2 separate regions of the Homo sapiens genome follow, and region 2 is linked to region 1. Evidence: fine-mapped expression QTL. A gene starts in region 1. The other region holds a variant in brackets. All regions are shown on one strand. Distances are between the middles of the regions.

Region 1 (15,219 bases):
ATACGAAAGTTAGCTGGGCATGGTGGCACACGCCTGTAGTCCCAGCCACTGGGGCGGCTGAGGCAGGAGAATCAGTTGAACCTGGGAGGCGGAGGTTGCAGTGAGCCGAGATCGCACCACTGCACTCCAGCCTGGTGACAGAGCGAGACTCCATCTCAAAAATAAATAAATACATAAATTTTGTAGAGATGGTGTCTTGTATTGTTGCCTGTGCTGGTCTGCAACTCCTGGCTTGAAGTACTCCTCATGCCTCAAACTCCCAAGTGCCGGGATTATAGATGTGAGGCATCATGCCTGGCCATTTGTTTATTTTTAATGTAAGCACACATTTTTGTTGCATTTTATAAGTTCTGGTGTGTTCTGTTTTCCTTTCCTTTTCTATCAAGATATTTTAAAAATCAGTTTGTGGTTTCTTTTTTGACCTATTGGTTTTTTAGATGTGTTGTTTCATTTGGACATATCTGTGGGTTTTACATTTCTTTCTGTTAATTTTGTTTTATTACATTATAATGGGAATCAATACTTTGTAGACTTCTAAATGTTTAAAAGATTGTTTTGTGTCATAACATGAAGTCCATCCTGGAAACTGTTCCATGGGCACTTCCGAAAAATTTGTATTCTGCTGTTTTTAGGTGATGTGTTGTGTATACGTCTGTCATATCTAATGAGGCTATAGTGATGTTTGAGTCCTGTTTTCTTCTTCTTCTCTTTGATTTTTATTTATTTATTTTTATTTTTTAGTTTTAAGGAGCAGGGAGTTTAATAGGCAAGAAAGAAGGGGGAAGAAAGAAAGAAGAAGCTCCCCTGTACAGAGACAGAGTGAGGGGGGCTCCAAAGCCGAGAGACAGAACCCCCTTCTCTTTGGTTCTATCCCCTTTTTTTTTTTTTTTTGAGACATAGTCTCACCCTGTTGCCTACCCAGGCTGGAGGGCAATGGTGTGATCTCAGCTCACTGCAACCTCCACCTCCCAGGTTCAAGCGATTCTTATGCCTCAGCCACCTGAGTAGCTAGGATTACTAGAATGCACCACTGCATCCAGCTAATTTTTGTAGTTTTAGTAGAGATGGGGGTTTCGCCATGTTGGCCAGGCTGGTATCAAACTCCTGGCCTCAAGTGATCCTCCTGCCTCAGCCTCCCAAAGTGCTGGGATTACAGGTGTGAGCCACCCTGCCTGGTCACCTTGTTCTATCCATTTTTGAAAATGAAGTATTGAAGTCTACTACTATATCGTGGAGCTATCTGTTTCTCCTTTGAATTTTGTGAATGTTTCCATCCTATACTTAGGGGCTGTGATATTTGGTGCCTATATATTTATAGTTGTTATATCTTCTTGGTGAATTGAACCCTTCATCATTGTATAATAACTTTTCTTTCTTATACTGGTTATTGAGTAAACGTCTGTTCTCTTTGATTTTAATATAGACACCTCTGTGCTCTGCTGGTTACTATTTGCATGGAATATCCTTTTCCATCCTTTCAGTTTCAGCCAATTTATGTCTTTAGAGTTAAAGGGAGTCTGTCGTGGATAGGATTTAGTTGGATCCTGTTTTGTTCTGATTCCAATGGGAAATCATTTGTATTTCACATACTCATAGAGAAGGCCTTAATAGTGCCATCTTGTCACATATTAGCTGTAGATTTTGTAACATCTTGTAGATTTTTTTGTCCTTCATTTTTCCCTTACTGCCTGCTTTTGTATTTTGTTGGTTTTTTAATTGTGACATGCTTTGATCCCCTTCTCATCTCCTCTGGTGTATGTTTGTAGATTTTCCTCTTGTGGTTAAGATTGAAGTTACATAAAACATTGTAACAATAAAACATTATTTTAAAATGTCAACAGCTTAACCTTGATTAGGTACCGAAAGCATTACATTATAGCTGTGCTATTTGTTATTGTGCTAGAAGTTCCTTCTATATATGTAATATTCCCATTAACACATTTTAGTGCTTTTTAAATAATTTTGCCTTTGAAATGCTAGGAAAGAAAAGCCAAATTACAAATGAAAAGTACAATAATGCATGATTTTTTTGTTTTCTTTTTTAATTTTTTTCTCATACAGTGTCACTCTCAGGATACTATGTTTCCATATTTGATCATTTATTGACCTTTAATGGAGAACTTTATATTTTCATTTGGGTTAGAAGTACTGTCTGGGGTCCTTTTATTTCCTTTTGAAGGATTCCCTTTAACATTTCTTGTCAGACAGTTCCAAGGTACTAATTACCTTCCTCAGCTCTTCTTTATTCAGGAACGTGTAAATTTCTCCTTTATTTTTGCAAGCAAGTTTTGCTGAATATAGTATTCTTGGTTTTTTGTTTGTTTGTTTGAGAAGGAGTCTCGCTCTGTCGCCCAGGCTAGAGTGCTGTGGCGCGATCTTGGCTCACTGCAACCTCCATGCCCCGCCTTCCCCCATGTGAGGTTCAAGTGATTCTCCTGCCTCAGCCTTCCAAGTAGCTGGGATTACAGGCATGTGCCAGCACAGCCAGCTAATTTTTGTGTTTTTAGCAGAGATGAGGTTTCACCATGTTGGCCAGGCTGGTCTTGAACTTCTGACCTCAGGTCATCAATCCACCTCAGCCTCCCAAAGTGGTAGGATTACAGGTATGAGCCACTGCACCCAGCCGTATTTTTTTTTCTTTAAGCACTTTCAACATATCATCATCTTACTGCCTTCTAGCCTGCAAGTTTGCTTTAAGATGTTTAATGATAGGCTGGGCACGGTGGCTCACGCCTGTAATCTCAACACTTTGGGAGACCAAGGCAGGCAGATTGCCTGAGGTTGGGAGTTTGAGACCAGTCTGGCCAACGTGGTGAAACCCCGTCTCTACTAAAAATACAAAAAAATTAGACGAACGTGGTGGCGTGCGCCTGTAGTTCCAGCTACTTGGGAGGCTGATGCAGGGGAATTGCTTGCGGAGGTTGCAGTGAGCTGAGGTGGTGCCACTGCACTCCAGCCTGGGGCAACAGAGAGAGACTCCGTCTCAAAAAAAAAAAAAAAAGAATTGTGACAGGTGTGACAGGGAGACCTTTCCCAATTAGCCTGTTGTAAAGGGTGTGGGAACACCTCACTCCTGGGATTGTGTCTCTCCTAGCTTTATGCGTATATTATACTATTACTAATGTCTATACAACTGCTCTTAAATGTCTTATTTTCTCTAAGAGGCTCATCCCTGCTTTTTCTGAGAAGCTTTCAGTTTCTGTTCTATTTTTCTGCCCTTAATCTTTCTCAAAGTCACTCATAATCCTCCCGAGTCCTGCAGATTCCCCACTGCTCCAATGCATCACGTCACCCCCTTGTGTTTTCAGCTCTCACAATGTGACATGCAAAGTATGCCGATACTTCTTCCAGTGTCTGAGTTGGGTGAGGCTGATTCTGGTCCCTCCACCAGACGGTAAACATGCCAGAATCATGGGTTCATGTTCTACTCTTTCTTCTTTTCTAGGGAGGAGCTGTGTATTGGGAAGCAATGCAGAAAACAAGCCTATTAAAAATCAACTTGGATTAACCCTTGAGGCACATCTGTCTGAATTGCAGCTGTTTCAAGCCGGAAGGAAAATTTACAGAAGTAATCAAGTTGAAAAGTTTACAAACCATCGTTCCTCAGTTTCACCACTTCAAAAAATTTCTTCTAGTTTCACAACACACATTTTTAATAAATATAGAAATGATCTTATTGATTTCCCATTACTCCCACAAGAAGAGAAAGCATACATTAGAGGAAAATCTTATGAATATGAATGTAGTGAAGATGGTGAAGTTTTTAGAGTCCGTGCAAGCCTTACTAACCATCAAGTAATCCATACTGCAGAGAAACCTTACAAATGTACTGAATGTGGCAAGGTCTTCAGTCGCAATTCACACCTTGTAGAACATTGGAGAATTCATACTGGACAGAAGCCTTACAAATGTAGTGAATGTGACAAGGTGTTTAATCGCAATTCAAACCTTGCACGACATCAAAGAATTCATACTGGAGAGAAGCCTCACAAATGTAACGAATGTGGCAAAGCTTTTAGAGAGTGTTCGGGACTTACTACCCATCTTGTAATCCATACTGGAGAGAAACCTTACAAATGTAATGAGTGTGGCAAGAACTTCAGGCACAAATTTTCTCTAACCAATCATCAGAGAAGTCACACGGCGGAAAAACCTTACAAATGTAATGAATGTGGCAAGGTCTTTAGTCTGCTTTCATACCTTGCACGGCATCAAATAATTCATAGTACAGAGAAGCCCTACAAATGTAACGAATGTGGAAGAGCATTTCACAAGCGTCCGGGCCTTATGGCCCATCTTCTAATCCATACTGGAGAGAAACCTTACAAATGTAATGAATGTGACAAAGTCTTTGGGCGCAAATTATACCTAACCAACCATCAGAGAATTCATACTGGAGAGAGACCTTACAAGTGTAATGCATGTGGCAAGGTCTTCAATCAAAATCCACACCTTTCACGACATCGGAAAATTCATGCTGGAGAGAATTCACTGCGTACCTTACAGATGGAATGAATGTGGCAAAATCTTTAGTTAGAATTCACACCTAGCACAACATTGGAGGACTCAGGAGAAAAACCTTACAAATATCATAAATGTGGCAAAGAATTTAGTTTGCATTGAAGCCTCATCACTCATCTCTTGATCCACACTGAAAGGAAACCCTACAAATGTAAAGTTAATAACATATATAAATAATCTATAAAGAGAGAACAGTTATATCAGAATAGAGCATTTAATGAAAACTACCAGTATAGCATATTCTTGAGTAGGATTCACATTTAACTGCTGGCACCGTAATTTGTAACTCTTTGATTTAGAATGTACATACTTCTCATGTTTTAAGTAATAAAGTTTAAAGTTTTTTTTTAGTTTTTTCTTTTTTTTTTGAGACGAAGTCTCGCTGTATTACCCAGGCTGGAGTGCAGTGGCATGATCTTGGCTCACTGCAACCTCCGTCTCCCGGATTCAAGCAATTCTCCTGCCTCAGCCTCCTGAGTAGCTGGGATTACAGGCATGTGCCACTACTGCCCGGCTAATTTTTGTATTTTTAGTCGAGACGGGGTTTCCCTCCGTTGGCCAGGCCGGTTTCAAACTCCTGACCTCAAGTGATCCACTGGCCTTGGCCTCCCAAAGTGCTGGGATTATAGGTGTGAGCCACAGCGCCCGGCCTAGTTTAAATTTTTCTTAGTGTGAATGAATTACATCCTTTCTACCAGCGTTGTTTAATCTTACCTCAGGAGGATACTTTATAGTAGAGAATAATAACCCATTATGATTTTAAGGTTGAAGCAGCCAGAAAAGTGTGTGTGTGTGTATGTGTGTGAGACATAAAACAACATACGCTTCTGGGTGCAATATACTTAAGTAAGTATGATGTTGAGTAATTACACTTAGTACTTGAGTTAGTTTCTCTGTACTCTGGTGTAGGATGTTTATGTGGGTAAAGTCAAAATCACTTTAATAGTACAATTTCAGCCTTGTACACCCTCAAATGTGTGTGAGTGTTAAAGAGTATGCCCTGTATTGTGTTTCTACATGCCTCTTTCTTGTGTGCCAAATAAGAACTATGGTGTGCACCTTCATTTTCATGCAGCAAAAATATATAGTAATATGACAAATATTAGGAAATAAAGTATGGGTTGAGGGCAAAAATACTGTAACATGGCCGGGCCTGGTGGCTCACGCCTGTAATCTCAGCACTTTGGGAGGCTGCATTGGGTGGATCACGAGGTCAGGAGATTGAGGCCATCCTGGTCAACATGGTGAAACCTTGTCTCTACTAAAAATACAAAAAAAAAAAATTAGCTGGGCCTGGTGGTGTGCACCTGTAATCCCAGCTACTTGGGAGGCTGAGGCAGGAGAATCGCTTGAACCCAAGAGGCAGAGGTTGCAGTGAGCTGAGATCACCCCACTGCACTCCAGCCTGGTGACAGAGCAAGGCTCCGTCTCAAAAAAAAAAAAATAATAATAATACTGTAACACAATTTCTTTTTGTACTTCTAGTGTTCAGTGACATCATTTGAAAATATTAATGTTCACCCATCTTCTTTTTAAGTCACACACAGAAAGGGAATTTTGTTTTGGTACATTAACTAGAAACTTCATATAGTCACCCTCACAACTCTTTTGGTAATTTGAATTTTTGACCACTCTTCTGGAACTTGTTTGAAGTCCCCCTAAGGTTTGGCTTGGATCTTGAGAATGATGATCCCATACACTGATATGGTTTGAGAGTGTTTATTATATAATGAGGCTCTGTGGGGGAAAGCAGGGTATACTTTTCCAGCTGGTCCAAAAGTGGCTTCAGAGAACTGGGATAGGTGACTGGCTTGGGGTGTCATGATTGCTAAAGGGTAGGGCTGGGGCGGGGATACCCACTACCCATACTGGAAACTTAGTTACAATTCACACCTAGCATGTATATTTTTATATTTTTTGTATGTATATATATTTTTACATTTTTTTCCTACATTGCCTCCAAATTCTATGTTTAATACATTTCTTCCCTGTTTTGCTCTGGTGAAAACTTTAGGGGACAAATAAATGAGTGCTGTTTGGAGACAAAATTTTGTGACATGGGACTGGGCATTGTGGCGTGTGCCTGTAGTCCCAGCTACTTGGGAGGCTGAGATGGGAGGATCACTTGATGCCAGGAGGTCGAGGCTGCAGTCAGTGAGCTGTCTGCACTTCAGCCTGAAAGACAGAGGGAGACCATCTCAAAAAAAAAAAAAAAAAAAAAAAAAAAGTTGTGACCTGAGTATGTCCATAAGACAATGGCAGGTATACACTAGGATTAATATAAATATGAAAAAAAAAAAAAAACTTGGCCGGGTGCGGTGGCTCACGCCTGTAATCCCAACATTTTGGGAGGCCAAGGCAGGCGGATCACGAGGTCAGGAGTTCAAGACCAGCCTGGCCAACATGGAGAAACCCTGTCTCTATTAAAAGTACAAAAAAGTAGCCCGGTGTGGTGGTGGGCGCCTGTAATCCCAGCTACTCGGGAGACTGAGGCAGGAGAATCGCTTGAACCCAGGCGGCGGAGGTTGCAGTGAGCCGAGATCGCGCCACTTCACTCCAGCCTGGGCAAAAGAACGAAACTCTGTCTCCAAAAAAAAAAAAAAAAAAAAAAGGAAATTGCACATTCCGCCCTGGCAGGGTTTTGCATTTCATATTTTAATTTGCATCCCCTTCATAAACAATTCAAGGACTTTAAAATTCCGGAAACTAGTGTTTATTATTCATTTATATTTATTTATTTTAATTATTTATTTCCAATTTGTTATTTATGATTATGTATTTATTAGGCGCAAGGTTTCTCTCTCATGCCCAGGCGGGAGTGCAGCGCACGACCTCGGCTCACTGCAGCCTCCACCTCATGGGCTCAAGCGATCCTCCCACCTCAGCATCCGGGTAGCTAGGACCACATGCGAGCGCCCCTACAGCCGATTTAAAATTAATTTTAATAGCAGGAATTTTCCTGGATCTAATCATCAACAAACTTTCCCTCTGCCGGGACACAATCTATTTCCAGATAGCTGAGTTCTTCCAGTCTCCACGGCAGGTCTAGCCTCCAAAACGAGACGAGCTGGGAGCGAGGCGGAGGGAAGCGCAGGCTCCGCCCAATCCCACCCGGGCCTGGCCTCGCCTCGCCTCTCAGCTGCGCGCGCAGTTTCCTGGAGACCCGGAAGCAGATTACGTGGAGTGACGGTCATGCTGCGGCGTGTGAGTTTCCCTTTGTTTAGATTAAATCTGGGATGCTGAGTCCCCTCGCGCTTCTGTACCCGGCATCTCAGGGGTCACACAGACCTTGAAATCCCCGCATCGCTCCCTCCACCCCGACTAAACTCAGACGTTCTAATGAGAGTCTGGCGGTCGCTTCCCTGAGTGTTAAAATCGCTCGGAGGCTGGTCCTGTCCCCGGTCTTTCACCACAGGGCCATGTAGACAGCTCCTGTCGCGGAGTTTGCCTGCTTCAAATCCTTCAGTGACCCCTAGACACGGCCCGCGCTGCGTAAAGTTCTCACCCGCGAGATGGATCCACGTCTTTCCGGTCCCCCAAGCCTCGCCCTCTTTTCACAGGCCTGCCCCCTTTTCTGTGCCTTAAATGAGAGGAAATCGATCTGATGTTTACTGCTGATTGTGATGTTTCAGCCTCCATTGGGCTTTTGCTAACACCTAAATAAATATTTAGTGGACAAAATTAGGTTAGTGCAAAAGTAATGGCAAACCGCGATCACTTTTGCACCAACCTAATATTTATGGGCCGGGGCTGGAATTCCATCTTCTCCGGAGGCCCAGGCTGGAGAATTCCTTGAGCACAGGAGTTTGAGACCACTCTGGACAACATAGTGAGACCCCCATCTCAATTTTTGAAACATATGTTTCAGTACGGGTATTTAATAGAGATTGGAATTCTCGTTTCTATGTTTTTACATGGTCTGACTTTTTGAAATAGTTTGAAATAATGTTTATAAACTGAATTGAGCACAGTTTATACATTTTTATTGTTGCAAACATGCTGAAATGCACATTTGCAAAAACAACGACAGCCAGGCACAGTGGTGCACGCTTGTCATTCGAGTTACTCGGAGAGGGTGTCATTTGAGGCCAGGAATTCAAGGCTGTAGTGTGCCATGAATAAGCCACTGCACTGCAACCTGGACACATTAAAAAACGAACAAAGACAAATATCTAAAAAAGAGGTTATTGACAGACAACTCTTTCAGTTGTCACATATATGTTTACTAGAGTATATGTGTGTGAATGTATATATGTATATGAATAAGTGTGTACATGTGATGTGTGTGGATGAGTGCACAGATGAGCAAGTCTATTGTTTTTATCAAAGGCGCATCATCAGTTTATATACGTCTTATATCTTTTAACAGTTGAAATTACATCTTATATATTTTCATGACCTTAAAATTGTTCTACACTGTTATGATAGTGAGTCTATGGCTGTAAGGATAGTAACCTGTTATGGGGATACATGTGCGACAGTTTCTTGATTTTAATCCCGGAACTTATTTTAACTATACTCAGTTAGGTCATTGTCTGTCAATTTACTTTTGATGCTGATCTGTTATTGTTTGATGTTTTTTTTTTTCTTTTTCTGAGATGGAGTCTCTCTTTGTCACCCAGGCTGGAGTCTCGCTTTGTCACCCAGGCTGGAGTGCAGTGGCACCATCTCAGGTCACTGCAAACTCTGCCTCCCGGGTTCAAGTGATTGTCCTGCCTCGGCCTCCCAAGTAGCTGGGATTACAGGTGCCCACCAGTACGCCTGGCTAATTTTTTTATTTTCGGTAGAGATGGGGTTTCACCATGTTTGCTAGGCTGGTCTTCAACTCCTGACCTCAAATGATCCACCTGCCTTGGCCTCCCAAAGTGCTGGGATTGCAGGCATGAGCCACCACGCCTGGCCTAATTCTTAAAGTTTGATTCTAATGCCCAGACTCCTGGGATCTGGCGCTTACTCTGCCATTTTTAGCCTTCACACCTGGGGCAAGTTTCTTAGAATGTCTGAGAAAGAGTTGTCTCTTCAATAGGATGGGAACAGATTGTTCTTTTATGGGCTTTTGTTGTTATAGCCGTTAGTACATGTACAACATTTAGAAAGTGCCTGTCACATGGGAGGTGTTCAAAAGCTTCATCCTGGCTGGGTGAGGTAGCTTACGCCTGTAATCCCAGCACTTTGGGAGGCCGAGGCGGGAGGATTGCTGAGGTCAGGAGTTCAAGACCAGCCTGACCAACATAGTGAAAACCTGTCTCTACTAAAAATAGAAAAATTAGCTGGGCACAGTGGTGGGTGCCTGTAGTCCCAGCTACTCGGGAGGCTGAGGCAGAAGAATCACTTGAACCTGGGAGGCGGATGTTGCAGTGAGCCAAGATTGTGCCACTGCACTCCAGCCTGGGCAATAAAGTGAGACTCCATCTAAAAAAAAATTATATATATTGTATCTGACGCTTCTATAGAAATAACTGTGGGTTAATTTTTTGTATTTCTTATGTTGTCCACAAAATTAGAAATCTCTACTAATTTTTTTTTTTTTTGGAGACAGAGTCTCGCTCAGTTGCCCAGGCTGGAGTGCAGTGGCACCATCTCGGCTCACTGCAAGCTCCGCCTCCCAGGTTCACGCCATTCTCCTGCCTCAGCCTCACGAGTAACTGGGACTACAGGCGCCCGCCACTACGCCTGGCTAATTTTTTTGTATTTTTAGTAGAGACAGGGCTTCACCATGTTAGCCAGGATGGTCTCGATCTCGTGACCTCATGATCCACCCGCCTTGGCCTCCCAAAGTGCTGGGATTACAGGTGTGAGCCACCGCGCCCGGCCTAGAAATCTATACTAATTTAAAGAATATCAGGTTGGGCATGCAGTGGCTCATGCCTGTAATCCCAGCACTTTGGGAGGCCGAGGTGGGCGGATCACGAAGTCAGGAGATCGAGACCATCCTGTGTAACATGGTGAAACCGCATCTCTACTAACAATACAAAAAAAAAAAAAAATTAGCTGGGCGTGGTGGCGGGCGCCTGTAGTCCCAGCTACTCGGGAGGCTGAGGCAGGAGAATGGCGTGAACCTGGGAGGCGGAGGTTGCAGTGAGCCAGGATCGCGCCACTGCACTCCAGCTTGGGCGACAGAGCGAGACTCCGTCTCAAAAAAAAAAAAAAAAAAAAAAAAAGAATGTCATAACTTCTAATGGAGAAGTATATTAAAACACAATTAGAAACATATAACTAGCTAAAAAAATACCTTAACGTGGATTTGTCAGAACATCCACTTCAATCAAGTCAGTCCTTACAACTGTCTCCTCATTTTGTGTGATATCCTGTTGGTGAAATGTGTTTTTCATTTTAGGGACACTTGGCATTCAGGGACGTGGCCATAGAATTCCCTCAGGAGGAGTGGAAATGTCTGGACCCTGCTCAGAGGACTTTATACAGGGAAGTGATGGTGGAGAACTACAGGAACCTGGTCTTTCTGGGTGAGGATAATGTCCCTTCAGAAGTCAAGATCTGCCCTGGTGTATTTTTGCATTTTGTCGTGTGCCTCTTAGCATCTTAGGAGTCACTGTATTGCTTGACTGAGATTGAAACCCTGTTGACTCAGAAATGAAAACCTCCATAATGCTTTATAATGCTGTATTTTTCAGAAACAATAAGCTCCATAATACTTTCTGGACTTAAAATAATTGCTTTCTTCAGAATTCTGGCCCCTTTGAGATTCATCATTGAGTGGTACCAGGGCTTAAGTATGCGTCAAACCTTATGACAGACTTAAGATATACAGTTCTGTGTTATCCACCCCTGTGCTTATTATTTATTAGTTCTTGTAAGAGAGCTTGATGTCTGCATGTTACAATGTTCCCTCAGCATTCAGAAGGAGGCAGTGGATGAATTCATGTGAAATACTGTAATTTTTTTTTTTTTTTTTTTTTTTGAGACAGAGTCTCCCTGTGTTGCCAGGCTGGAGTGCAGTGGCAGGATCTCAGCTCAATGCAACCTCCGCCTCCCGTTTTCAAGCAATTCTGCCTCAGCCTCCCGAGTAGCTGGGACTACAGGCACGTGCCACCACGCCTGGCTAATTTTTGTATTTTTAGTGGAGATGGGGTTTCACCATATTGGTCAGGCTAGTCTTGAACTCCTGACCTCGTGATCCGCCCACCTCGGCCTCCCAAAGTGCTGAGATTATAGGCGTGAGCCACCGTGCCTGGCGAAATACTATTCTTGATTCATTTATAATATCCTCTCTCCTACCTAGACATGGGGCTTGCATTTTGGAGATGCCACAGTACACATTTATTCTTTCTTTTTATTATTATTATTTTTTTGAGACAGAGTCTCGCTCTGTCGCCCAGGCTGGAGTGCAGTGGCGCGATCTTGGCTCACTGCAAGCTTCGCCTCCCAGGTTCACGCTGAGTATCTGGGACTACAGGCACCCGCCACCACGCCCCGCTAATTTTTTTTTTTTTTGTATTTTTTAGTAGAGATGGGGTTTCACCGTGTTAGCCAGGATAGTCTTGATATTCTTTCTTTTTTTAAATAGGAATCTGTCTTCCTGACCTGAGTGTTATCTCCATGTTGGAGCAAAGGAGAGATCCCCGGAATCTGCAGAGTGAAGTGAAAATAGCAAACAATCCAGGTGGCAGGGAGTGCATCAAAGGTGTGAACGCAGGTAAGAGCTTGGATGGCCAGAGTGGAGGCCCCATAATTTTTTTTTTTTTTAAACAGGGTCTTGCTCTGTCACCCAGGCTGTCGTAGAGTGGCAATCATCAGTGGCAATCGTGGCTTAACTCATAGCCTCAAACTCCTGGTCTCAAGTGATCCTCCTTCCTCTGCTTCCGAAAGTGGTGGGATTACAAGCATGAGCCACTGTACCCTGCAAAACCACACTTTGAGTTTCTGTTTGGGAGCTCTCTGCAAGTGAGAGAATTCTTTGGGAAAATAAAAGTTTAAATCCTGTGAGTTCTGATTGAAGTTTGTTTTGTCTTGTTTTGTTGAGACAAGTTCTTGCTCTGTTGCCCAGGCTGGAGTGTAGTGGTGGTGTGATCGTAGCCCGTGTACCCTCAGTCTTTGGGCTCATATGATCATCTCACCTCTGCCTGCCAAGTCACTGGGACTGTAGGCATGTGCCATTGCATCTTGCTAATTTTTAAAAAATCTTTTGTGGAGATGAGGTCTCACTAGGTTGCACAGGCTTGTCTTGAACTCCTGGCCTCAACTATTCTTCCCACCTGGCCTGCCAACGTGCTTGGATTGCAGGCATGACCCACCATGCCTGGCCTAGAAGGGAAATTTTTCTTTGCCCCCTCTTACTGCTGCTGTGTTCTTTGTTTTTGGCGTTTTGTTTGTTTGCTTGTTTGTTTTTGAGATGGAGTCTCACTGTGTTACCCAAACTAGTATTGGTTTTTTTTTTTTAATTTTTAATTTATTTTTATTAATTTATTTTTTTGAGACAGAGTCTTGCTCTGTCGCCCAGGCTGGAGGGCAGTGGCACGATCCTGGCTTACTGCAACCTCTGCCTCTCAATTTCAAGCCATTCTCATGCTTCAGGCTCCCAAGTAGCTGGGATTACAGGCGTGCACCACCAAGCCTGGCTAATTTTTTTTTTGTATTTTTAGTGGAAACGGGGTTTCACCATGTTGACCAAGCTGGTCTCGAACTCCTGGCCTCAAGTGATCCACCCACCTTGGCCTCCCAAAGTGCTGGGATTACAAACATGAGCCACTGCTCCCGGGCATAATGTTATTATTATAATTATTTCAATAGGGTTTTGGGGAACAAGTGGCATTTGGTTACGTAGATAAGTTCTTTAGTGGTGGTTTCTGAGATTTTGGTGCACCCATCACCCGAGCATTGTACGCTACATTCAATATATAGTCTTTTATCCCTCACCCCCCTCCCACCTTTTCCCCCAAGACCCCAAAGTCCATTGTATCGCCTTTGCATCCTCCCAGTTTAACTCCCACTTATGAGTGAGAACATACAATGTTTGGTTTTCCCTCAGGCTTTGGGCTCATATGATCATCTTGCTCTGCCTGCCAAGTCACTGGGACTGTAGGCATGTGCCATTGCATCTTGCTAATTTTTAAAAAATGTTCTGTGGAGATGAGGTCTCACTAGGTTGCCCAGGCTTGTCTTGAACTCCTGGCCTCAACTATTCTTCCCACCTGGCCTGCCTAAGTGAGTTAGTTCATTTAGAATAATGGCCTTCAATTCTATCCAGGTTGCTGCAAATGCCATTATTTCGTTCCATTTTATGGCTGAATAGCATTCCATATTAGTATGCCACATTTTCTTTATCCATTTGTTGATTGATGGGCATTTGAGCTGGTTCTCTATTTTTGCATTTGTGAATTGTGCTGCTATAAACGTGTGTGGAAGTGTCTCTTTTGTATAATGACTTCTTTTCCTCTGGGTAGATACCCAGGAGTGGTTTTGCTGGATCAAATGGTAGATCTACTTTTAGTCCTTTAAGGAATCTCCCCGCTGTTCTCCATAGTGGTTGTACTAGTTTCCATTCCCACCAGCAGTGTAAAGTGGTCCCTTTCACCACATCCACACCAACATGTAGTATGTTTTGATTTTTTGATTATGGCCATTCTTGCAGGAGTAAGAGGGTATTATATTATAGTTTTAATTTGCATTTCTCTGATAATTAGTGATGTGGAGTCTTTCTTCATATGTTTGTTGGCCATTTCTGTATTTTCTTTTGACAATTGTCTATTCATGTCCTTAGCACCGCCCCCCCCCCCCCTTTTTTTTTTTTTTTTTTGAGACAGCGTCTTGCTCTGTCGCCCAGGCTGGAGTGCAATGGCATGATCTCGGCCCCCTGCAACCTCCACCTCCCGAGTTCAAGCAATTCTCCTGCCTCAGCCTCCTGAGTAGCTGGGATTACAGGTACCCACTGCCAAGCCCAGCTAATTTTTGTATTTTTAGTAGAGACGGGGTTTCATTATGTTGGCCAGGATGGTCTCAAACTATTCACCTCAGGTGATCCACCCGCCTTGGGCTCCCAAAATGCTGGGATTATAGGGGTGAGAGACTGTGCCCGGCCCTTAGCCCACTTTTTGATAGGATTGTTTGTTTTTTTCTTGCTGATTTGTTTGAGTTCCTTGTAGATTCTGGATATTAGTCCTTTGTCAGATACATAGTTTGCAAAGATTTTCTCCCATGCTGTGGGTTGTCTGTTTACTCTGCCGATTATTTCTTTTGCTGTGTCATAGGCAAAGTCTTTATCATGATGGACAACACCCTGTCATATGGCTTATGAGAATTCTTTGATTCCATCATTCTGAAGGACATAGGGAGGGCTGTGTCAAAGGGGTCTCTTTTTCCCATGGTCTCTGTTTCTGTAGTGATTTTATCTGATGCTAAGTTTATACATCAAACCTGGGGTCTGCATAGACCTGCCTCCTTGACCTGTGTATGGTCCACACAATTTCCTATATGAGGAAGACCTCATCAGAAGATAGGAAAACATTGGCTGCTCTTTTTTTTTTGCATGTGGGGCTCAAAGATTGCATGAAGGCGTCTCAACCCCTCTTTGCCTCTTGAGGTCTTGTGGAGATAGGGAAAATCCAGTGTTTTTTCTACTCTCAAATGCCACTCAGCAGAGAGCGCTTCACTTCTGGTCAACCGAATGGGTGGGGATTTCTACGCACCAACAACCAGTTTTTCAGTGGCCATCTAATAGTTTTCTATGATGCCTTTCTGATA
Region 2 (15,219 bases), 25 kb after region 1:
CATGTTTTAATTAATAAAATTTTCCTAAGTATGAATGAATCACATCATTTCTACCAATTGTTTTAGTCCCCCTTAGGAGAATATACTGCACAGTAATGCAACATTAATAGTAAATACTCTGCAATTTGGTTTTCTTTGTCTTCACACTGAGTTATGTAGCAGTGATATGTGTCTAATCACTCTAACTTTAGTGTAAAATAGGCATTTTTAAAAAATGCACCATTAAGGTTGACGCATCCAGAACAATTTTGTGTGTGTGAAATCAACATATGCACACACTTGTGGTGCATATCCTTGGGTAAGTATAATTTACACTAATCATACTTAATACTTGAGTTATTCTTTCTGTGCCACTTCAGCCTCCTACACCCTCAAAAGTCCATGAAACATTCACTGTTCATTATATTTCTACGTGCCTATTGTGTGCCAAGGAAGACTCATGGCATGCACCTTAATTTTTATGAAGCAAAAATACAAATATATGACAAATACTTTTTTTTTTTTTTGAGACAGTGTCTTGCTCTGTCACCCAGGCTGGAGTGCAGTGGCACAATCTCGGCTCACTGCAACCTCTGCCTCCCGGGTTCAAGCAATTCTCCTGCTTCAGCTTCCCTAATAGCTGGGACTACAGGCGCACGCTGCCACGCCCAGCTAATTTTTTGTATTTTATTAGAGACGGGGTTTCACCATGTTGCCCAGGCTGTTCTCGAACTCCTGAACTCAGGCAATCTGCCTGCCTCGGCCTCCCAAAGTGCTAGGATTACAGGCGTGAGCCACTGTGCCTGGCGACAAATACTATTAAATGAAAGAAAGTATGTTAATAAGAGTGAAAATACTGTACCACAATGTCTTTTTTTTCCTAGTAGTGCATGTCTTTTTTTTTTTTCCTAGTAGTGCTCAGTGACGTAAGTGGAAAATATTAATGTTCATAAATTTTCTTTTTTTTTTTTTTTTTGAGACAGAGTCTGGAGTGCAGTGGCACGATCTCGGCTCACTGCAACCTCCACCTCCCAGGTTGAAGCAATTCTTCTGCTTCAGCCTCCCAAATAACTGTGACTACAGGCGCGCACCACCACGCCCGGCTAATTTTTGTATTTTTAGTAGAGACAAGGTTTCACCATATTGGCTAGGCTGGTCTCAAACTCCTGACCTTGTGATCCACCCGCCTCGGACTCCCAAAGTGCGGGGATTACAGGTGTGAGCCACTGCGCCTGGCCCATAAATTTTAAGAATGGTCACATAGAATGGGAGTTTTTTTTGCTTTTGTAGATTAACTAGAAACTTCATATACTTCCCCTTACAACATTTTTGGCAATTTGAACTTTTTTTTTTTTTTTTTTTTTTTTAGGCAGAGTCTCTGTCACCAGGCTGGAGTGCAGTGGCGCGATCTTGGCTCATGGCAACCTCTGCCTCCCGGGTTCAAACGGCTGCCTCAGCCTCATGAGTACCTGGGACTACAAGCGTGCACCACCACGCCCAGCTAATTTTTGTATTTTTAATAGAGACAGGGTTTCACCATGTTGGCCGGGATGGTCTTGATCTCTTGACCTCGTGATCCACCCGCCTCAGCCTCCCAAAGTACTGAGATTACAGGTGTGAGCCACCATGCTTGACCGATAATTTGAACTTTTGACTGCTGTACTGGAATTTGTTTGAAGTCCACCTAAAGTTTGTATTATATATTGAGAATGATGATGCCATACACTGATATGGTCTGCAAATGTTTACTACATAAACATTTACATGAGGCTTTCTGGGGAAAGCAGGATGGACTTCCCCAGCTGGTCCAAATTGGAGAACAGGGATAGGTGAGCAGCCTGGGATGTTGTATTAGTCTGTTCTCATGCTGCTAATACAGACATACACAAGACTAGGTAATTTATAAAGAAAAAGAAGTTTAATGGACTCACAGTTTCACACGGCTAGAGAGACCTCACAATCATGGCAGAAGGTGAAGGAGGAGCAAACACATGTCTTACGTGGTGGCGGGCAAGAGAGAGCCCGTGCAGGGAAACTGCCCTTTATAAAACCATAAGATCTCATGAGATTTATTCACTATCATGAGAACAGCATGGGAAAATCCCACCCCCATGATTCAGTTACCTCCCCCCGGGTCCCTCCCACATGTGGGGATCATGGGAGCTGCAATTCAAGATGAGATTTGGTGGGGACACAGCCAAACCATATCATTTTGCCCCTGGTCCCTCCCAAATCTCATGTCCTCACATTTCAAAACCAATCATGCCTCCCCAACAGTCCCCCAAAGTCTTATTTCAGCATTAACTCAAAAGTCCACAGTCCAAAGTTTCATCTGAGACAAGCAAGTCTCTTCTGTTTATGAGCCTGTAAAATAAAAAGCAAGTTAGTTATTTCCTAGGTACAATGGAGGCACAGGTATTGGATAAATAACGCCCGTTGCAAATGGGAGAAATTGGCCAAAACAGGTCACAGGCCCCATGCCAGTCTGAAATCCAGCAGGGCAGTCAAAGCTCCAAAATGATCTCTTTTGACTCCGTGTCTCACATCCAGGTCACACTTATGCAAGAGGTTGGTTCCAGTGGTCTTGCAGGGAACCCATGTCTGCCCCTGTGACTTTGCAGGGTACAGCTCCTCTCCTGGCTGCTTTCACAGGCTGGTGTTGTGTCTGCTACTTTTCCAGGCACATGGTGCAAGCTGTCGGTGAATCTACCATTCTGGGGTCTATAGGAGGGTGGCCCTTTTCTCACGGCTGCACTAGGCGAGTAGTGAGTAGTCTGTGTGGGGGCTCCAACCCCACATTTTACTTCTGCACTGCTCTAGCAGAGGTTCTCCATGAGGGCTCCGCCCCTGCAGCTCACCTCTGCTCCAGTTCCAATAAAGTTCCTCATCTCCATCTGAGACCACCTTCAGCCTGGACTTTTTGGTCAGAACCATTCAACAACCATTTTCTAGGAAGCTCCAAACTTTCCCACGTCTTCCTGTCTTCTTTTGAGCCCTCCAAACTGTTCCAGCCTTTGCCTGTTACCCAGTTCAAAATTTGCTTCCACATTTTGAGGTATCCTTATAGCAGCACCCCACTCTATACCATTACCAATTTACTGTATTAGTCTGTTCTCACGCTGCTAATAAAGAAATACCCGAGACTGGGTAATTTATGAAGACAAAGAGGTTTAATGGACACAGTTCCATGGGGTCGTGTCCCCCGTGCTTCTGCCACAGGGCCATATAGACAGCTCTTATCGCGGAGTTTTCCTGCCTCAAATCCTTCAGTGTCCCCTGCACTGGCCCGCACCTTTTTTAAAGTCCTCACCGCAAGGTTGATTCCCGCCCTGGGAGCTTCCCATCTGCTCCGCTCCCTCGTCAGCTCCTGGAGCGCAGCGACGCAGCCCCAGTCCCAGGGAGGCCGTGAACTCTTCCTGGTCCTGGGATCCTGCAGACCCTGCCCCTCTCCTGACTTTCTCCTGCCTTTTTCCTCCTTGATCGGGGGCCCTTCTGCTCCCCAGGCCTCCCCTTCTCCTGATATCGAGTGTGGGGACGTGACTTCTATCTCAGGACGTTAAGGTTTCTCTTGTCCCAAATTCCATCCCACAGGAAATGGGCTCTTGAGGTGGGGATCTGACTGCAGTCCCCTCCCTATGAATGTGTGGAGGAGAGGAAATAGAAAAATGGTGAAATGGGAAAGAAGAATGAAGGAGACCCATAAACAGACGGCAGCTGGGTGCGATGGCTCACGCCTGTAATTCCAGCACTTTGGGAGGCTGAGGCGGGCAGATCACCTGAGGTCAGGAGTTTTGAGACCAGCCTGACCAACATGGAGAAACCCTGTCTCTAAAAAATACAAAATTAGCCAGGCATGGTGGCGAATGCCTGTAATCCCAGCTACTCTGGAGACTGAGGCAGGAGAATCGCTTTTACCCGGGAGGCGGAGGTTGCGGTGAGCCAAGATCGCACCATTGCACTCCAGCCTGGGCGACGAGCAAAACTCCATCTCAAAAAACAAAAAACAAAACAAAACAGATGGCAAAGTAGATGGTGGATGAGGGATTTGCAGAGACAGTGCATGAAGATGCTGAGAAAGGAGCAGGGGGAGAAAAGCAACTAGAGAAATTTAGAGAAAAACTGGGTTTCTAGAGAGATAAAGTTCAGCAAGATAGGGAGAGGGGCAGAAAAGGGGAGGCTCCTCAGATGGAGAGTTGGGGAGAGAAGGAGGGATTTGGAGCCAGGGCAGACAGAGCAGCATGGTGCTGGGAGAGCAAGAGGGGCAGCCAGTGATAAGGAGAGCACAGGGAGAACCACAGCCTGGGGAGAACTGGGATCTGGGGATGCCAGAGAGGGGACAGGTGGATATAGCAGGGAAGAGGGGATTTAACAGGGGAAGCTAGGGGGCAGCAGAGACGGGGGGAAGAAAGAGGCAGAACTATATGAAAATTGGAGACAAATATTGGGCAGAAAGAAGAATAAGAGGTGAAAGAAGTGAGAAAGGAGCAGAACAAGTGGAAGAGAAGGAATAGAGGGAAGAGCAGGAGAAGGAAGAAGGGCTTGAAATGAGGAGAATCCTAGGGGAAAAATAAAGAGAAAAAAAAAGCTAGGAAAAGAAGGTGAGAATGAGAGGTAGGTAGAGAAACACACAGTAATGAGGAAAGAGGGGGACACTCAATCCAGATGAATGATGAATTGATTGGATATTATGATTAATTTCTCTATAATAAACATCACATTTGTTTAAAATATACAGATGAAGATGAGAATTGGAAAACTGTCTATAAGGCATGTGCATTTCCTAATTCTTGGTATCAGAGGTTAGCTTCCATTTGCTGTCCTTATTCTGCCAGACGGCAGGCAGTGACTTGACTCATTCAGGTATGGGTCACTATCTTCACTTCTGGGATGGGGTAGGGTGTGTGAGTGTATAAGATAGGAGGAAAAACCAAAGTGTTTTTTCTACTCACAATCAACACAATAGTGAATGCTCAACACAGAATGCCTCATCTCCGGTCATCAAAATGTGTGGGGATTACTTCCCACCAACAAGCTATTTTTCATCAGATAAAAACTGGGTGTTCTCTAATTGAACTCAATTTGACACCATTTATAGGGAGTTAGCATTAGATCTCACAGGAGGCTGAGGGCTCAGTTGCACAAAACTGCCCCCAGAATTTGCTATTGCTAGAGTGATTTACACAACTTGGAGAAACAATTTACTGAGGTGTACCATTTGTTATAAAGGATGTTACACAGGACACAGATCAACAGCCAGATGGAAGAGCATTCCTAATAAATTAATGGAAACAGAAGTATGTTTTGGAAACCATGGACTGACTTTCTTTCTCTTTCTCTCTTTCCTTCCTCCCTTTCTCTCTCTCTTTCTTTTCTTTCACTTTGACGGAGCCTCGCTCTGTCACCCAGGCTAGAGTGCAGTGGTGCTATCTCAGCTCATTGCAACCGCCACCTCCCGGGTTCAAGTGATTCTCCTGCCTCAGACTCCCAGGGAGCTGGGATTACAGGCGTCCACCACCAAACCTGGCTAATTTTTATATTTTTAGTAGAGACAGCATATTGCCACGTTGGCCAGGCTGGTCTCGAACTCCTGACCTCAAGTGATCTGCCTGCCTCGGCATCCCAAAGTGCTGGGATTACAGGCCTGGGCCACTGCACCCAGCCCAGGGCTTGAGTTTTAAAGGTGCCACAGTACACCTTGGTTCTCTTTTTTTATAAACAGGAATCTGTCTTCCTGACCTGAGTATTATCTCTATGTGGGAGCAAAGGAGAGAGCCCTGGACTCTGGAGAGTGAAGGGAAAATAGCAAAAAAATCCAGATGGGAGGGAATGGATCAAAGGTGTGAACACAGGTAAGAGCTCAGATGGGCAGAGTGGAAGCTGTATATATATATAT[A/T]TTTTTTGAGAGACAGGGTCTTGCTCTGTTAGCCAGGTTGGAGTGCAGTGGCAATCATAGCTCACTGCAGCCTGGAACTCCTGGGCTCAAGTCATCCTCCTTCCTCTGCCTCCCAAACTGGTGGGATTACAGGTGTGAGCCACTGCACCCTGCAAAGCCACACTAATAAATAGTGTTTGGGAAACTCTGCAACTGGGAGAATTCTGTGGAAAACCAATAGTATAAATCCTGTTAGTTTTTTTTTTTTTTTTCTTTTCTGAGACAGAGTCTCACTCTGTTGCCCAGGCTGGAGTACAGTGGCGCAATCTCGGCTCACTGCAACCTCTGCCTCCCAGGTTTAAGCTAGTCTCCTGCCTCAGCCTCCTGAGTAGCTGGGATTACTGGTGCCTGCCACCATCCTTGGCTAATTTCTGTATTTTTAGTAGAGAGAGGGTTTCACCAAGTTGGCCAGGCTGGTCTCGAACTGCTGTCCTCATTTGATCTGCCCGCCTCAGCCTCCCAAAGGGCTGGGATTACAGGTGTGAGCCACCATGCCTGGCCTAAATCCTGTTAGTTTTGAATGGAAATTTTCTTTCTTTCTTTTTTTTTTTTCTGGGACAGATTCTTGCTTCGAGACAATGACAAATACAAACTAGGTTTACTGTAAATATGAGAAAGGGAAAAAATACTTTTATTGTATTAGAAGACTTGAAATCACATGAAGTGATACCAATCTTTTGTTGTTGTTGGTCAGATGTTTTAGCTATTTTAGGTGTTTGGGTTTTTTGTCTTTCTACATAACTGCTAACCTTGTTAGTATCTGCAGAATGCCTTAATTAGGAAAGGTATTAACCCTATGTGTCAGATTTGTATAATTCATATTGCTTTACATGGAGTCTTCCAATAAATGTATATGGTATATGTCTCTATTTGCTGTCTTTGATTTCTTTTATCAGCATTTGGTAGTTGTAACATAACAGTTCTATGAATGTTTTGTTTCACATGTATTTCTTTGCCCCCCCCCTTTTTTTTTTTTTTTTTTTGAGACGGAGTCTTGCTCTGTCGCCCAGGCTGGAGTGCAGTGGCGCGATCTCAGCTCACTGCAAGCTCCGCCTCCTGAGTTCACGCCATTCTCCTGCCTCGGCCTCCCCAGTAGCTGGGACTACAGGCACCCGCCACCACACCTGGCTAATTTTTTTGTATTTTCTTAGTAGAGATGGGGTTTCACCGTGTTAGCCAGGATAGTCTCGATCTCCTGACCTCGTAGTCCACCTGCCTTGGCCTCCCAAAGTGCTGGGATTACAGGTGTAAGCCACTGCACCCGGCCTCTTTGACCTTTTTCTTAATGGAGCAATCATACATAGTATTTTATTTTTAATATCAGGTTTCATGTGCAAATTGCTAGTGTATAGAAATATACAAGATTATTATTATTATTATTTTGAGACAGGGCCTTACTCTGTCATCCTGGCTGGAGTGCAGTGGAGCAATCTCAGCTACTGCAACCTGTGTCCTGCAGGCTTAAGTCATCCTCCCACCTCAGCTTCCCCAGTAGCTGGCACTGCAGGCATGTGCCACCATGGCCTGTTAAATTTTTGTGTTTTGTAGAGATGGGGTTTCACCATGTTACCCAGCCTGGTCTCAAACTCCTGAGCTTGAGTGATCTGCCTGCCTTGGCCTCCCAAAGTGCTGGGATTACAGGCACGAGCCACCATGCCTGGCTGATGAAATATACGATATTTTTGTAGGTTGACCTTATACTTTGCTACCTTTACATTTTTCTTGTTCTAGAGATTTTTGTAGATTTTTTTGGAATTTTCTACATAAAATCATTTCATCAGTTTCCTATTGCTATACACAGTGATTGGCTTAAAACAAGAAAAATTTATTCTTTTATAATTCTGTAAGTCACATATCTAATATGGGTCCATAGTTCTGTGATTCTTCATTAATCTCCAGGGGAGAATTTGTTTCCTTACCCTTTGTAGGTTCCAGAGGCCACTTACATCCTTTGACTCATGGTCCACTTCCTCCATCTTTAAAGGTGAGAAAAAAAATCTCTTTATCCCTCTATTTTCAACACATCACCACTGTCTCTGTCCCTTCGCATCCACCTGCACCCTTCTGATATTGAACCTTGTGATTCTATCACTTTGACCATATAATTCAGGATGTCTATCTAAAGATCCTTATCTAGACCACATTTGCAAACTCCCTTTTGATATATCCAGTAACACAGGTCATAGGGATGTAGCTACCTTCCTTTGGGAAAGGTATTAGCCTGCACAACCAACATATTTTCTGTTGGTACACTATTTTTTTTGTCCTGTCCTCAGGCCACCCTCCTTCCTCAGCCTCCCAAAGCACTGTGATTACAGGCCTCAGACACCACACCCAGCCTGTCACTTTTATTTCTTTTTCCTTTATTTCACTGGCTGGAACCTTTCATATTGTGTGGAATAGTAGTGATAAGAGGGGACATTCTTGCCCTCATCCCAACCTCTAGGGGAAACTATGCTTTCACCAGTTTGTATGATGATTCTGATTCTGTAAGGATTGGTAGGTGATCTTGAGTTGAGGAAGTTTCCCATGATACTGCTTTCCATACTGACCGCAGTATTTCAGATTCCCACAAAATGTACGAAAATAGTTTCTCCACATCCTTGCTTGTGAAGCAGGTTCACTGCACACTGGTTGCCAATGTGTCTGAGTTGAGTGAGAGATAATCTCACGGACACACAGTAAGTTACATGAAGTGAATTTGTTACATACAGATCGGCAGATACCTGGGATTCATGCATTCTGCTCCCCAAGGCTCAGGAAAACCACCCAGTGCAGATGCAGTCTCTCTGTATGTGTTCAACTTGCATCACAGCTGTGGGAGGCTGGAAGGCGGCCCATCCTGGGTTTCATGCTCCAGGGATGCATGGCACGTTGGCCTAAAGCAACAAAGGGGATCCTGTTCTGGGGATCTGGAACACATCCTGTCCTTTTCTCACCGGTCCCTTCCTCTCAGGATGTTGCTTTTCCAGCACATTCTATATTCATTCTTGGGAACTACAAGTGAGAAGTCAGATGCAACTGGGCCAATTCAACCCCACTTGAATGCTGTCCTGCAGTCTCTCCGCCAATCCAGATATCCCTTTTATTTTTATATTTTTTGAGACGGAGTCTCGCTCTGTCTCCCAGGCTGGAGTGCAGTGGCGCAATCTTGGCTTACTGCACCTCCACCTCCCAGATTCAAGCAATTCTTGTGTCTCAGCCTCTCGAGTAGCTGGGACTACAGGCGTGTGCCACCATGCCTGGCTAATTTTTTTTTTTTTTTTTTTTGTATTTTTAGTAGAGACTTCGTTTCACCATGTTAACCAGGCTGGTCTCTAATTCCCGACCTCAGGTGATCTGCCCTCCTCGGCCTCCCAAAGTATTGGGATTACAGGCGTGAGCCACCACGCCTGGCCCAGATATCCCCTTTAATAAAGCTAGTCCATTTACATGTGCACTGACCTCCCTGGATCTGGAGGTAGAGGCTGGTCTCAGGAGATTGAAGTAATACCTCGACTGGCAGAATCTCAGGGCAACATCATTGAGGTACAGCCAGTTGCATTTCACTAGGCTCAAGAGGATTGCTGCCTCAAGCAGGATAACCAGGCCTGCCTGGAGCAGTGCCGTAGTCCAGGATCCCAGTGACCTAGGTGAGAAGTTGGTACTCAGATCAAAGAAAAGTTCTTCAGGTGACCCCACTGTCTGCAGCCAATGGGCCTGCTTGTGGGCCTTATGTATTTGTGTTTCAAAAATAACCTGAGGGCTTGATGTGGGGGTCCTTATCTCCCATGCAAGGTGATTCATGCCTATAATCCGAGCACTTTGGTAGGAGCAGATGGGAAGACTGCTTGAGGCTAGAAGCTGGAGACCAGCCTGGGCAACAAAACCAGACTACATCTCTATTAAAAACAAAGCAACAAACAGTAGAAAATTAGCACAGTGGAGAGGCACAGGCCTTTACTCACAGCTACTCGGCAGGCTGAGACAGGGGGTCACCTGCCCAGGACCCCAGGAAGTCAAGGTTGCAGTGAGCTATGATTGCGCCACTGCATTTCAGCCTCGGTGGCAGAGACCCTGTCTTAAAATTTTAAAAAGTATTAAAAAACTAAGTTGGACCGGGCGTGGTGGCTACTCTGGAGGCTGGGGCAAGAGAATCACTTGAACCCAGGAGGCGGAGGTTACAGTGAGCTGAGTGCCTGCCACTGTACTCCCGCCTGGGGGACAGAGGGAGACGCTGTCTCAAAACAACAACAACAACAAAAAACTACGTCGTTTATGGCTATTTTTATAAGTTACTGGCTTTTTTTTTTTAAAGAATCGGTGACTTATCTTCACACTGGCCTTAGTCCTCCATGCCCAACACGATGTCCCTAGGAAAGTCTCTGGAATTGAGCACAGGGTTGACCTTCACCGTCTAGAGTGAATGGGGAAGATAAATGAAAAGTATTTATCTTCTATGGGCACTGGCATGAAATAGAACATTCTACCCTGGCAGGGTTTTGCATTTCACATTTTAGCTTGCATCATCCCCTTCACAGACAATTCCAAAGTGTGTTAATTCAATTCCTAAAGCTTCCCTTCCCTTCCTCCCTTCCCTTCCCTCCTTACTTTTCTTTCTTGTCCATTTATTTTCGGTTTTTTTCTCTTTCTTTCTTGGTTTTCTTTCTCTTTTTCAACTTCTCTTTCTTTTCTCTTTCTCTTTACTCTCTCTCTTCTCTCTCTTTCTGCTTCCAGGGTAGGTGGGACTTGAAATTCATTTTAATAGAAGGAATTTTCGTGGATATAATCTACAACCGATTTTGCTCTGCGCAGGTAAGATCCGTTTTCAGACCAAAACCCTGAAAACAAGCGCAGCCAGTCAAGCGAACGGAAGCGCAGGCCCGGCCCAGGCTTTGTCCCGGCCCGCCCTGGTCCCAGCCAGTCCGGCCTCTAGGATGCGCGCGCAATTTCGTGCAAACCCGGAAGCGGACCGCGGGGGGCGAACGCCTAGAGCGCAGTTTCCGGTAGACCCGGAAGCCGATTGCAGGGAGAAACTGTTTTCGCAGCAGTGCGTGAGTTTCCCTTTGTCTATGTTAAGTCTAGGCTAGCCAGTTCTTCTCTGCTTCTATACCCGGGAGCTGAGGGGCATGCAGACCTTGAAATCCCGGCACCGCTCCCTCCACCCCGAGTAAATTCAGACATCCTTTGAGAGTCTGGGAGTCGCTTTCTGCGTGTTAAAATCGCTTGGAGGCTGGTCGTGTGCCCGGTCTTTTTGTCATTTACCCACGTAGACACCTCCTATCGTGGGGTTTACCTGCTTCAAATCCTTTAGTAACCCCTACACACGCCCCGCACCACGTAAAATCCTCACTCTCCGTTCCCCTAGCCTCGCCCTTCTTTGCCCCTAGAGCTCAGCGCCCCAACAGGGCACGAGAGGCCTCGTCCTCTGCCCAGACCTGGTTTCTGCAGACTCCACCCCTCTCCTGACCCACTCCTGCCTTTTTGCTCCTTAATCTGGACCCTCTGTTCCCCAGGCCTCCCTTTTCCAGCCACCGGTTCTCCTGACCCCGAGTGTGGGGGGTGACTTCAGTCTCCTGACATCCAGTGTTCTCTCGAGCCAGTTTCCAGCCCACAGAAAATGAGCTCTTCCGGAAGTGGGCATCTTATTCCAATCCCCTCCCTGTGAATGTGTGGAGAAAAAGAGATGGGAACGAGGCAGAGGAAATAGAGAAATTTTGAAAGAGAAATGAAGAATGAGAGACCCATTAACAGAAGGCAAAGTAGAAGGTGAGTGAGGGGTTTGCAGAGGCACAGTGAAAGAAGGTGCCGAGAAAATAGCAGGGGAGAAAAGTAACTGTAAAAATATAGACAAACCTGGGTCTGTAGAAAGACGAAATTCAACAAGATAGGGAAGGCTTCTCAGACAGAGGGGGGAGAGGAGGAGGGATTTGGAGCCAGGTCAGACAGAGCAGCGTGGTGCTGGGACAGCCAGAGGGGGCAGCTGGTCACAAGGAGAACAGGGAGAACCACAGCAGGGGGAGGCCTGGGATCTAAGGGTGCCAGAGAGTGGGGACAGGGGTGTGTAATATCGAAGATGGAATTTAACAGGGAGACCCCAAGGGGAGCTGAGATGTGGGAGGAAAGAGGCAGAAATATATGGAGATTAGGGACAATGAAAGATTGGGCAGAAAGAGGAATAAGAGGTGAAACAAGTTGTAAAAATGGATCAGAACAGGTGGGAGAGAAGGAATAGAGGGAAGAATGGGACAAAGAGAAGAGGAGGGACTCAAAATGAACAGAATCCTAGGGGAAAATAGAGAAAAAAAGAGCTAGGAAAAAAGATGAGAATGAGAGATATGTACAGAATGAGGCAGGGAAACAGTAGTGAGGAAAGAGGGGGACCCTGGTTACAGATGAGTGGTGAGTTGATTGGAAATTATGATTGAATTGTGACATATTAATTTTTCTATAATATAAAATTTGTTTAGAACACATGAGGCTAGGAGCTGTGGCTCACACGTGTAATCCCAGTACTTTGGGAAGCTGAGGTGAGCGGATCACTTGAGGTCAGGAGTTGAGACCAGCCTGGCCAACATGTGAAACCCATCTCTAGTAAAAATACAAAAATTAGCTGGGCCTGATGGCCTGCGCCTGTAATCCCAGCTACTCTGGAGGCTGAGGCAGGAGAATCGCTTAATCCTGGGAGGCAGAGGTTGCAGTGAGCCGAGATCGTGTCACTGCACTCCAGGTTAGGTGACAGAGCAAGACTCCATCTCAAAAAACAAAAAACAAAAAACCACACATGAAGATGAGAATTGGAACACTATTTATAAGGCACTCTTCTCTTTTCTTGGGATGGACTAGGGTGTGAGTGTATAAGTTAGGAAAAACCAGTGTGTTTTTGTGTTCACAGTGAACACAATAAAGAGCGCTCAACACAGAATGCCTCATCTCTGGTCACCAAAGTAATATGGGAATTACTTGTCACCAACAAGCAGTTCTTCGTCAGACAGCACCTGGGTGTTCTGTAATTTTACTCAGTTTAACTGGTCAGTGTAGGAACAACCACAGACACATTTTGATCACTAAAGGTGAGGGATTCTCCTTTGGGTGTGAGAGTAGTAAAAACAGTGTGGTTTTTTCCTGTCTCAAACAGTAAGGGGAAGAATTTTCCAACAGGCCCACTCACCTGTCTCTAGGACTGTGTTCTTAGTAGTGACTGGGAATTGTCTGTCCCTGCTCCTGGCTGCTGCTGATGCTGAGACTGTGTGCCACAGGCCAGCCCCATTCACTCTCTCCTGATGCCACGGCATCCCTCCTCCACAGTGTCATCAGATTTTACTTCAAGGGAATTATTTTGGTCAGCATACCCAGATGGAGTTGTTGCCCATTAAAACACACACACACACACACACACACACACACACACACACGCCTTTATTTTTTCCACTATTTCATCCTCAGAAGAAAAAACAAAGTATTAGCTACATTTTTACTTGCAATAAGTATGCCTTTTCTGTGCTCCATGTAAGAGCACAATATACCAAAATCTTGTTTAGGCGCTCTCTCACTCTTTCCTCCATTTCTTGCTTGACCCCATCCAATCAGGTTTTGACACCAACCATTCCACTGCTCCTTTTTTTATCTGAGTCACCAGTGACTTCTCTGTTTCTAAATCTAGTTATTTATTTATTCATTTAATTTTTAGAGACAAGGTCTTGCTCTGTCACCCAAGCTGGCATGCAGTGGCACAGTCATAGTTCACCATAACCTCAAACCCCTAGACTCCAGCAATCCTCCCGTCTTAGCCTCCAGAGTAGATAGGACTATGGGCCTGTCCCTCTGCGTGGCTGATTGAAAAAAAAATTTTTTTTTTTGAGACAAAGTCTCACTACATTGCCCAGGCTGGTCTTGAACTCCTGACTTCTAGCCATCCTCCTACAAAGAAGTCCCAGCATGCTGGGATTAGAGGCATGAGCCCTTTACCCTGCTTAAATCTGACTTTGAATTTTCTGTCCTCCTGTCTTTTTCTGTCAGCAGCATGTTTCACAGCTGATCACTCTTTTTTTTCGCAGCTTTGAAGACATTGCTTGTATTTTTAAAAATCTGTTTAAAATTTTTCTCATTACTTTCGTATCTTATCAGTTTCCTCTGCTGCTGTCTCCTGAAGTGTCTTCTCTGAATATGGAAATGTCACCCAATTTAGTCCTTAAACCTGTTCTGTCTGCCCACACCCTCAGCTTTTCCTTTTGATCTCATCTATGGTTTTAAACACCACCAACATGTCTCCATTTTCCCTCTTCACCCACCCCTCTCCCCTGAATTCCAAAATCCTGTGTCCAGTCATGTTCTCGACATCTCTGCTGGGACATCCACAGGCATCTCCACCTCCACGTGTCCAAAATAGGCTTCCTGAACTCCCCCAGACATGTTCTCCCTACAGTCCTGCATAGCTCAGATGACAGACACCTTCTACTTTCTGGGGATTAACTAAACCTGTCAGAATGTGCTTAAAATATATGAGATACTATTTGTGTTTTAATTTCTAAGGTACAGAATAAGTGACATATTTACTTAAAATGAGTGAGGAAATAGATTGTTTCAAAATTTCTTTTGATGTGTAGGAGAAAATATTTGAAGAGCTCAGCCCTGCCTGATCTGCTTCCCCAGGACCTCTCTGACCTCATCTCCTGCCTCTGTTCTTCCCGCTCCCTCTACTGCAACTACACAGCCCCCTTTCCTTTTCTGAGAGCGTTTTGTATTTTTAAAATAAGTGCTTGATCAAAGTATGATTTTAGGAATCACAGTTTATTACCACATGAAGAATTGCTTTTTTTTTTTTTTTTTTTTAGGTTCACAAATTTTAAGAAAGGGAGAATAAAGTGAAAAAAATCTCAGAAGGAATCCACTCAACAGACGAGGTACCTTAACCACATAATGGTTGATTTCCAAAATTATTAACATCTGCTTGCTCAGTTAGGATAAATCAGACCTATGTAGAAAGTCAAAGTTTGAGGATTACCTCAGGGTGAGGTCTTCCCTTTGTGTGTGGCTATGGCACAGGAAGGAGGTATGTTGATTCTAAGCCCTAAGCAGCATATTTTTGACATTCAGGATTCACTTCCAAAGAGACATATTATGCAAGGAAGCAACTTGGAAGAGGAAAGAAAAGAAGTCAGGAATGGCCCTTACTCAGGTAAGGTAATGTTCTCAGTGGATTGTTCTGTCTCTGTTTCTTCCTGAAATGCCAGGCATTGGAGTTGCTAATCTTTGACTCTGAAGCATCCTGCCTGACACGTTTGCTTGCACTTACCCATGGCTTCTTCCAGTCCCTTCATTTCCGCTTG

The links.
Region 2: its variant is fine-mapped to the expression of ZNF880 in caudate (GTEx, PIP above 0.99). The same link has a PIP of 0.9 or more in nucleus accumbens.

The regions. Positions count from the first base shown.
Region 1 is chr19:52,362,253-52,377,471 of GRCh38, forward strand. ZNF880 (zinc finger protein 880) reads left to right here and starts at 7,671. Exons shown (of 4, transcript NM_001145434.2): 1 at 7,671-7,725; 2 at 10,859-10,985; 3 at 12,047-12,175. The coding sequence starts at 7,714. It overlaps ZNF610 (zinc finger protein 610), which reads left to right. Exons shown (of 6, transcript NM_001161425.2): 6 at 3,446-5,526. The coding sequence ends at 4,515. RefSeq lists enhancers at 7,353-7,652, 7,663-7,772, 7,973-8,112.
Region 2 is chr19:52,386,961-52,402,179 of GRCh38, forward strand. It overlaps ZNF528-AS1 (ZNF528 antisense RNA 1), which reads right to left and starts at 10,797. Exons shown (of 7, transcript NR_125345.1): 1 at 10,502-10,797; 2 at 10,235-10,307; 3 at 9,650-9,792; 4 at 9,405-9,539; 5 at 8,638-8,790; 6 at 7,831-7,887; 7 at 1,879-2,343. It overlaps ZNF528 (zinc finger protein 528), which reads left to right and starts at 10,889. Exons shown (of 7, transcript NM_032423.3): 1 at 10,889-10,944; 2 at 11,407-11,659; 3 at 14,725-14,793; 4 at 14,987-15,068. The coding sequence starts at 15,054. It also overlaps a transcript of ZNF880 not described here. RefSeq lists an enhancer at 10,201-11,400. The variant A/T (reference allele first, on the strand shown) is at 5,873.